Regions from separate parts of the Homo sapiens genome. Here all the other regions are linked to region 2. The links come from fine-mapping of genetic effects on gene expression. A gene starts in region 2. Each other region holds a variant in brackets. All regions are shown on one strand. Distances are between the middles of the regions. Region 1 overlaps DNMT1 (DNA methyltransferase 1). Region 2 holds the start of SHFL (shiftless antiviral inhibitor of ribosomal frameshifting). Region 3 has its middle 4.0 kb from the start of EIF3G.

Region 1 (2,756 bases), 62 kb after region 2:
GAGTCATTGAGACAAAAACCCTAAGATATCAATGAACAGGGTCTAGAATATGGTTAAGAACACACCACGAGCAACAGTCCCGAGTGGCTCAGTGAGGAACTCAATCCAGCAGAGACTCCTACTGTTCTCTCCATAAAGGCTCAACAGGTATTTGAGGAAATTCAACATTATTCTTGACTAGTAAGCCCTTAAAGGAGACTTGAAGATGGCCTTAAAAATAGAGATCAAGGCCCAGCATGGTGGCTCATGTCTGTAATCCCAGCCCTTTGGGAGGCCAAGGCAGGAGGGTCGCTTGAGCCCAGAAGTTTGAGACTAGCCTGGCCAACACAGTGAGACCCCGTCTCTACAAAAAATTTTTAAAACATTAACCAGGCAGGGTGGTGCATGCCTGCAGTCCCAGCTACTCAGGAGGCTGAGGCAGGAAGATCACTTGAGCCCAGCAGGTCGAGGCTACAGTGAGCTGTGACCACACCACTGCATTCCAGCCTGGGTGACAGAGGGAGACCCTGTCTCAGATAAATAAATAAATAAATAAATAAATAAATAAAAGAGGTTGGGTGATAAATAAATAAGTAAATGAGGTTGGGTGCAGTAGTTCATGCCTGTAATCCCAGCACTTTAGGAGCCTGAAGGGAGCAGATGACCCAAGGTCAGGAGTTCCAGACCAGCCTGGCCAACACGGTGAAGCCCTGTCTCTACTAAAAATACAAAAATTAGCCGGGCATGGTGGCAGGCGCCTGTAGTCCCAGCTACTTGGGAAGCTGAGGCAGGAGAATCACTTGAACCCAGGAGGTGGAGGTTGCAGTGAGCCGAGATCGTGCCACTGCACTCCAGCCTGGGTGACAAGAGTGAAACTCCATCACAAAAAAGTAAAAAATAAAATGAAAATAGAGATCAAGCCAAAGCTAGCACGAGACTTATGGGAGAAGCACAGATGCCCCCGGGGAGCCCTCTTGGCCTCCTGGGTTTCCCTGGTTGCCACCTGCTCCTCTGGGGGTGCTGGCTGCTGCTTTTAGTTGAAACAAGTGAGGTACGGAGGTTAAAAAGAAGGCATGGGGCATTGGACATTAAAAAATAAAAGCTCGCCGGGCGCGGTGGCTCACACCTGTAATCCCAGCACTTTGGGAAGCCGAAGCGGGTAGATCACCTGAGGTCGGGAGTTCGAGACCAGCCTGACCAACATGGAGAAACCCCATCTCTACTAAAAATACAAAAAAAGTAGCCGGGCATGGTGGCCCATGCTTGTAATCCCAGCTACTCAGGAGGCTGAGGCAGGAGAATCGCTTGAACCCAGGAAGTAGAGGTTGCGGTGGGCCAAGATTGAGCCACTGCACTCCAGCCTGGGCAACAAAAGCGAAACTCTGTCT[C/CA]AAAAAAAAAAAAAAAAAAAAAATTAAAAAAATAATAATAAAATAAAATAAAAAATAAAAGCTTCCCTCAAAGCAGTCACCCAGTTACAAAAGAATCGAGGACAGGTGTGGTGGCTCACGCCTGTAATCCCAGCACTTTGGGAGGCCAAGGCGGGCAGATCACAAGGTCAGGAGATCGAGACCATCCTGGCTAACACAGTGAAACCTCGTCTCTACTAAAAATACAAAAAACTAGCCGGGTGTGGTGGCAGGCGCCTGTAGTCCCAGCAACTCAGGAGGCTGAGGCAGGAGAATGGCATGAACCCAGGAAGCTGAGTTTGCAGTAAGCCAAGATCGCACCACTGCACTCCAGCCTGGGCAACAGAGCGAGACTCCGTCTCAAAAAAAAAAAAAGAAAAAAAAAAAGGAAAGAAAAGAATCAAATAAGAGGTCTCATTTACAGGAGAAAATATCTAAGAAACAGCCAAAAACATGCAAGAGCTGGGCACACACTGAAGAACACACGGGAAGTCTTGAAATGGCAAGACGAACCCTGTTCCTGGGTAGGGAACCCTCTTACAAAGACAACGCCAGGTCATCCACACACTTAAAGCAACTCCAGGCCATCTACACACTTGAGCATCATTCATAGTCAGGCTGGCCTTTGACGAGCAAGAGACACAAACTGGGGGGCCGTTGGCGGAAGCCAACCAGACGGAAGCACACGGGAAAAGGGAGTGATGTGGGCTGAAAGTGCCTGCTGACCCCGAGTCCAGCCCCAGTGCTCACTTGAACTTGTTGTCCTCTGTTGGCTGGGTTTTTGGAGGGGACTCGAATCTCGCGTAGTCTTGATCATACCACAGCTGGTAGAAGTAGGTCTTCCCGTCGTCCCCCTCCAGCAGGGACTCGGGATCCATGCCTCCCTTGGGAGATAAGAATGCGTGTCAGGCCAGGCGCAGTGGCTCATGCCTGTATTCCCAGCACTATGGGAGGCCGAGGCGGGTGGATCACCTAAGGTCAGGAGTTCGAGACCAGCCTGGCCAACATGGTGAAACCCCGTCTCTACTAAAAATACAAAAAATTAGCTGGACGTGATGGTGGGTGCCTGTAATCCCAACTACTCGGGAGGCTGAGGCAGGAGAATCACTTGAACCCAGGAGGTGGAGGTTGCAGTGAGCTGAGATCATGCCATTGCACTCCAGCCTGGGCAACAAGAGCGAAACTCAGTCTCAAAACAAAAAAAAAAACAAAAAAAAAACCAAATTAAAAAAAAATACAAATCAAAACAAAACAGAACGCACGTCAGCAGTGACCCTCCACGATAAGGCAGGGGCTCACGAGGGACACCAGGCACTCACCTCCATGGCCCAGTTTTCGGAGGGGGCTTTGTAGATGACTTTCACTTTGCTG
Region 2 (2,756 bases):
ATAAATAAATGAATAAATATCCATCTGGGGGTGTAACTTTAACACTTTTACCTATAGGGGTGTGCAATGGAGAAAAAAATTTGGAGTCGTTGAACACAATGCTATTTTGCTCCTCAGAGAGTATCCGGCAGTCTCTGGAGACGTTTTTGGTAGTCACAACAGGGAGAGTAGGGAACCACTGGCATCTAGTGGGTGGAGGCCAGGGATGGTGTTAAATGTCCCCCAATACACAGGACAGTCCCCCACACAAAGAACTAGGCCGCCCAAAGTGTCAAGAGTGCTGGGCTTGAGAAGCCATTGCCCAAAAACCCCAGACTTAGTCTTGCTTTGGGGGCTCTGCACGGCTGCCTCATCTCCCCACTCTATTCCTCCCCTAGCTAAGACCTCCAATTTCAGTGACTCTACAAAGCATCCCCTCCTCCAATGAAGTTGCCATCTCTGTGTCCCCAGGCTGGGCCAGAGCCCCACCACCTAAGGGCTCCCTGATGTGCCCTGTACTGGGTTAGAATTGTCCGTCCCACGGGGTTCTTAACCATTGCAGATTCCCTGGATCCCTGAGACAGCCGGATTCTACCGGGCTACTAGAGACCAAGAATCTGTATTTTTCTCAAGCACCGCTCCCCCCAACCACACACACACTGCCTGCCCCTATCAAGGGCACACAGCAGGTGGCCCAGTGACTAGTTGAACGCCTACTGCAAGCCAGGCGCTATTACGCGATCCACTCGGGAATCTTGGCACATACTCCACTCCATGGTGTAGACACCAGGATTCTCCCCATTTCACAGAGGGGTAAACTGAGGTTGAGAGAGGTGACCGTAGCTAGGACAGAGACTCAGGGCAGGAAAAGGGCCCAGGTCCTCATGAGCGCCAGATTCCCGGGGAAGGAGGGAGAACAGAGAGGAGGGTGATGAACTGGGGGAGCGCGCGCTGGGTGGGGGGGCGCGGGGCCTCGCCGCGGCCTTCTGATGCGGCCCCGCCCCCACGAGGGACGTGAAGACGCGGACCCCGCGCAGCGTGGGGACATGTGACCGACTGCAGAGGCCGCGCCGCCTCCCCCGTCCGAGGTCTGCGCGCTCCGCCGCAGGGTGCAGACCCGGGGCGCCCGCCTGGGTTTGGGGCGCAAGAGCAGAGGCGGAGCCAGGGCGGAGCCAGCGCGCCGGGTCCCCCCTGAATCGAAAGCGAAACAGGGGCCGGGGAGGAAGGGCGGAGCCGGCCCCGAGGCACCGCCCCCTGCCCTGCGCGGCTGCTGGACCGACGGGCGCACCCAGGTAGGGGGGCGGCTGAGCCGCGCAGTGCGGACCCTCGCGGGGAACTGCGCCGCCGCCACCATGTCTCAGGAAGGTGTGGAGGTAAGCGATGGCTACGGCTGGGCCGGGGTCAGCCGCGACAGACCCCGAGGAGCGGCCGGGAGGCGCGGAGGGGGCTTCGCAGTTCCTGGGGACCCCCATCCTAGAACCCCAGATCCTTACCCCTGCCTGGCGCTCGCCCCCCTTGAAAAGGAAAGTGACTCCCACGTTTCCCCAGAGCGAAATGAGGCCTCCCCGAGGAAAAGCGGGGGCTGCAGGGTCAAAGGTCAGAGGCCAGAGATAACCTGGCCGCCCCCCCACACCTTAGGCTGGGACGCTCGCCCCAGTCCGCGCCTTCCCCCAACGCCCTGTGGGGACTTTGGCTTTTTCCAGGAAATGCCGTAAAGGGATGAAAGGCGGGGGGGGGGCGGCGGAGGCCAAAACCAAGGGTCAAGTTCGGGCCGGGAGAACGGTGCCTAGAGATGGGGGAGGGATGATCCCGTTTCCCCTTCCCCCACCGGAACCCCCCTGTCTCCATCCCAGCTGGAGAAGAGCGTCCGGCGCCTCCGGGAGAAGTTTCATGGGAAGGTATCCTCCAAGAAGGCGGGGGCTCTGATGAGGAAATTCGGCAGCGACCACACGGGAGTGGGGCGCTCCATCGTGTACGGTGAGGCTGCAGGGGTCCCGGGCCTGGTGCGGGGACCGCGCGTGGGAGCGCCGAGGGGGCGTGGTCTAGGGAGAGGCGTTGAGATCACCTCCCCCGGAGGTCCCAGCCTTGGGGAGGCTCTGCGTCGCGGCTCTGGGTGGCCTGGAACTCCCACAGACCCTTCAAGGGCCCTTCCCTTATATGCACTCTCCCCCGCAGGGGTAAAGCAAAAAGATGGCCAAGAACTAAGTAACGATCTGGATGCCCAGGTAACCTATCCCCTCCCCTCGCAAAGGACCGGGTCACGGGAGGGAGAGCAAGAGGGGGGACCCGACCCGTTCATGGTGACTGACCCCCCTCTGAAACAGGAGGGACCAGGCATTGTCGGTCCATAACTCATCACCCAATCTCACTTTTTCACCTCTCCATCATTTGTCCGGCCAGGGAGCCTGCAAACAGTAGGCGCTCATTATGTGCTGATTGTATTCAATGGGGGAGAGAGCCATGAAACTAAGCAATGAAAGGAGCCAGGATTATTGCCATCATAGCGGGGGCGCAGAGGTCAGAGAAGGCTTACTGGAGGAGGAGGTACCAAGTCTTAAAGGATGGGGAGGAGTGAGCCCTGGGAGGGGAAAGGGAAAGAAAGGCAGGGGTCTTGGGGTGGGGGAGGGAATGGCATAAGCAAAGGCTGGGAGGTGGGGAAGGGTTGTTAGTGGCAGTCTCTAGAAAGGCTAGGATGAGCAGAGGATTGGGGAGGAGAGAGAGGCAGGGGAATGGAACCCTTGTGTTGAATGAATGAATGAATGAATGAATGAATGAAT
Region 3 (2,756 bases), 37 kb after region 2:
AGATGCCGTCTCTACTAAAAATACAAAAAAAAAAAAAAAAAAATCTGGCCATGGTGGTGGGTGCCTGTAATCCCAGCTACTTGGGAGGCTGAGGCAGGAGAATCGCCATTGCACTCCAGCCTGGGCGACAGAGCAAGACTCCATCTCAAAAAAAAAAAAAAAAAAAAGAGGAAGCGATATATAAAATGGCATATATTACAGGAACCAATTTGTGTAAATCTTCAACAGCACATAGATATGCAGATATATGCAAATCATTTCCTGGAAAGAAAGAATCAGAACCTGTTAATGAGGAATGCTTTGGAAAGAAGGCACCAAGAAAGGAAATATTATTTTTGGACATGTATTAATATATAATATGCATTTATGTAATATATGTGAGATGTAACATATAAATATATTTCTTGGCTGGGCACTGTGGTTCGTGCCTATAATCCCAGCAGTTTTGGAGGCCAAGGCAGAAAGATTTCTTGAGCCCAGGAGTTCAAGACCAGACTAGGCAACATCATTGAGACCCCATCACTACACACAAAAAATTGCTGGGTGTGGTAATGCACGCCTGTAGTCCCAGCTACCTGGGAGGCTGAGGTAGGAGGATTGCTTGAGCCCAGGAGGTCAAGGCTGCAGTGAGCTATGATTGTGCCATTACACTCTGGCCTGGGTGACAGAGCAAAAACCCTGTCTCTAAAAAAGAAAGAGGCTGAGCACAGTGGCTCACGTCTGTAATCCCAGCACTTTGGGAGGCCAAGGCAGGCAGATGACCTGAGGTCAGGAGATCAAGACCAGCCTGGAAAACGTGGTGAAAACCCATCTCTATTAAAAATACAAAAATTACCTGAGCATGTTGGTGCATGTCTGTAATCCCAGCTACTCAGGAGGCTGAGGCAGGAGAATCGCTGGAGCCCAGGAGGTGAGGCTGCCATGAGCCAAGTGCTGGGATTACACAGGTGTGAGCCACATCAAGGTTTGGGTGCAAGAGTACATCTGGTTATAGATTACAGAAGCATAATACCCTGACCCCATTAGATGTTATTTTATGTGTAGGAAAAGGTTTGAACCAGGTCCTTTTTTTTTTTTTTTTTTTTGAGATGGAGTCTCACTCTGTTGCCCAGGCTGGAGGGCAGTGGCACAATCTCGGCTCACTGCAAGCTCCGCCTCCTGGGTTCACGCCATTCTCCTGCCTCAGCCTCCTGAGTAGCTGGGACTACAGGCACCCGCCACCACGCCCAGCTAATTTTTGTATGTTTAGTCGAGATGGGGTTTCACCGTGTTAGCCAGGATGGTCTTGATCTCCCGACCTTGTGATCCGCCCACCTTGGCCTCCCAAAGTGCTGGGATTACAGGTGTGACCCACCCGTGCCCGGCCCAGGTCCTTTTTTTCTTTTTTCTTTTTTTTTTGGGGGACGGAGTCTTGCTCTATTGCCCAGGCTGGA[G/C]TGCAGTGGTGCGATCTCAGCTCACTGCAACCTCCGCCTCCTGGGTTCAAGCGGTTCTCCCGCCTCAGCCTCCTGAGTAGCTGGGATTACAGGCATGCACACCACCACACCCGGCTAATTTTGTATTTTTAGTAGAGACGGGGGTTTCTCCATATTGGTCAGGGTAGTCTCGAACTCCCGACCTCAGGTGATCCGCCTGCCTGGGCCTCCCAAAGTGCTGGGATTACAGGCATGAGCCACCGCACCTGGCACGCCTTTTTTTTTTTTTTTTTTTTTTTGAGACAGGGTCTTTCTCTGTCACCCAGGCTGGAGTGCAGTGGCACGATCACAGCTCACTGCAGCCTCAACCTCCCCAGGCTAAGGTGATGCCCTTGCCCTGGTCTCCCAAAATGCTGGGATCACAGGCATGAACCACCGTGCCCAGACTCATTTAAGGAATATAGTGACTCGGGCAAGGGACATGGTGTGCCCTGTGCTCTGTCCTGTTTTGTCTTCAAAGCCTTGTTCTGTAGAGCTGCGCAGACGTGTCTCACGTGTCTCAGAGTCAGGGGCTTTGTGAAATTACGCTGGAAAGCAGAATTGAGCAAACCCAGCTTAACATTAGTTACTTTTTCTCACATTTTCACAACAAAATATCACAGACTAGGAGGCTTAAACAGCACACATTTATTTTCTCAGTTCTGGAGGCTGGAAGTCCAAGATCACAGTGTCGGCAGGGTTGGTTTCTTCTGAGGTGGGGGCACCTTCTCCCTCGGTCCTCACGTGGCCTCCTCTGTGTGTGTCTATGTCCCAATCTCTTCTTCTAAGGACATCAGTCATATTGGATTAGGGCCCACCCTAATGACCTCATTTAAACTTTTTTTTTTTAATTATTTTTTTTAAAGGTGAAGTCTCACTCTGTAGTCCAGGCTGGAGTGCAGTGGTGCAATCTCAGCTAATGGCAACCTCCACCTCCTGGGTTCCAGTGATTCTCCTGCCTCAGCCTCCCGAGTAGCTGGGTCTACAGGCATGTGCCACCACACCTGGCTAATTTTTGTATTTTTGTATTTCTAGTAGAGACGGGGTTTCACCAAGTTGGCCAGGCTGGTCTCAAACTCCTGATCTCAAGTGGTTTGCCTGCCACGGCCTCCCAACGTGCTGGGATTACAGGCATAAGCCACCACACCTGGGTTTAATTTTCTCTCTAAAGGTCCTGTTTCTGCTGGGCACAGTGGATCACGTCTGTAATCCCAGCACATTGGGAGGCCAAGGTGGGCGGATCCCTTGAGGTCAGGAGTTCGAGACCAGCCTGGCCAACATAGCGAAACCCCTGTTGTCTACTAC

Evidence for each region. PIP is the estimated chance that this variant, and not a neighbour inherited with it, causes the effect.
Region 1: its variant is the best candidate, but not a certain one, in a credible set for the expression of SHFL in neutrophils (Naranbhai 2015, PIP 0.82).
Region 3: its variant is the best candidate, but not a certain one, in a credible set for the expression of SHFL in neutrophils (CEDAR, PIP 0.82).

What each region holds. Positions count from the first base shown.
Region 1 is chr19:10,146,749-10,149,504 of GRCh38, forward strand. It overlaps DNMT1 (DNA methyltransferase 1), which reads right to left. Exons shown (of 41, transcript NM_001130823.3): 26 at 2,705-2,756; 27 at 2,136-2,269. Among named protein-coding and RNA genes, the nearest start is that of EIF3G, 28 kb to the left of the region's middle. The variant C/CA (reference allele first, on the strand shown) is at 1,368.
Region 2 is chr19:10,085,097-10,087,852 of GRCh38, forward strand. SHFL (shiftless antiviral inhibitor of ribosomal frameshifting) reads left to right here and starts at 1,221. Exons shown (of 8, transcript NM_018381.4): 1 at 1,221-1,352; 2 at 1,833-1,956; 3 at 2,155-2,204. The coding sequence starts at 1,332. RefSeq lists silencers at 920-1,139, 1,210-1,489.
Region 3 is chr19:10,122,501-10,125,256 of GRCh38, forward strand. No RefSeq gene overlaps it. Among named protein-coding and RNA genes, the nearest start is that of EIF3G, 4.0 kb to the left of the region's middle. The variant G/C (reference allele first, on the strand shown) is at 1,434.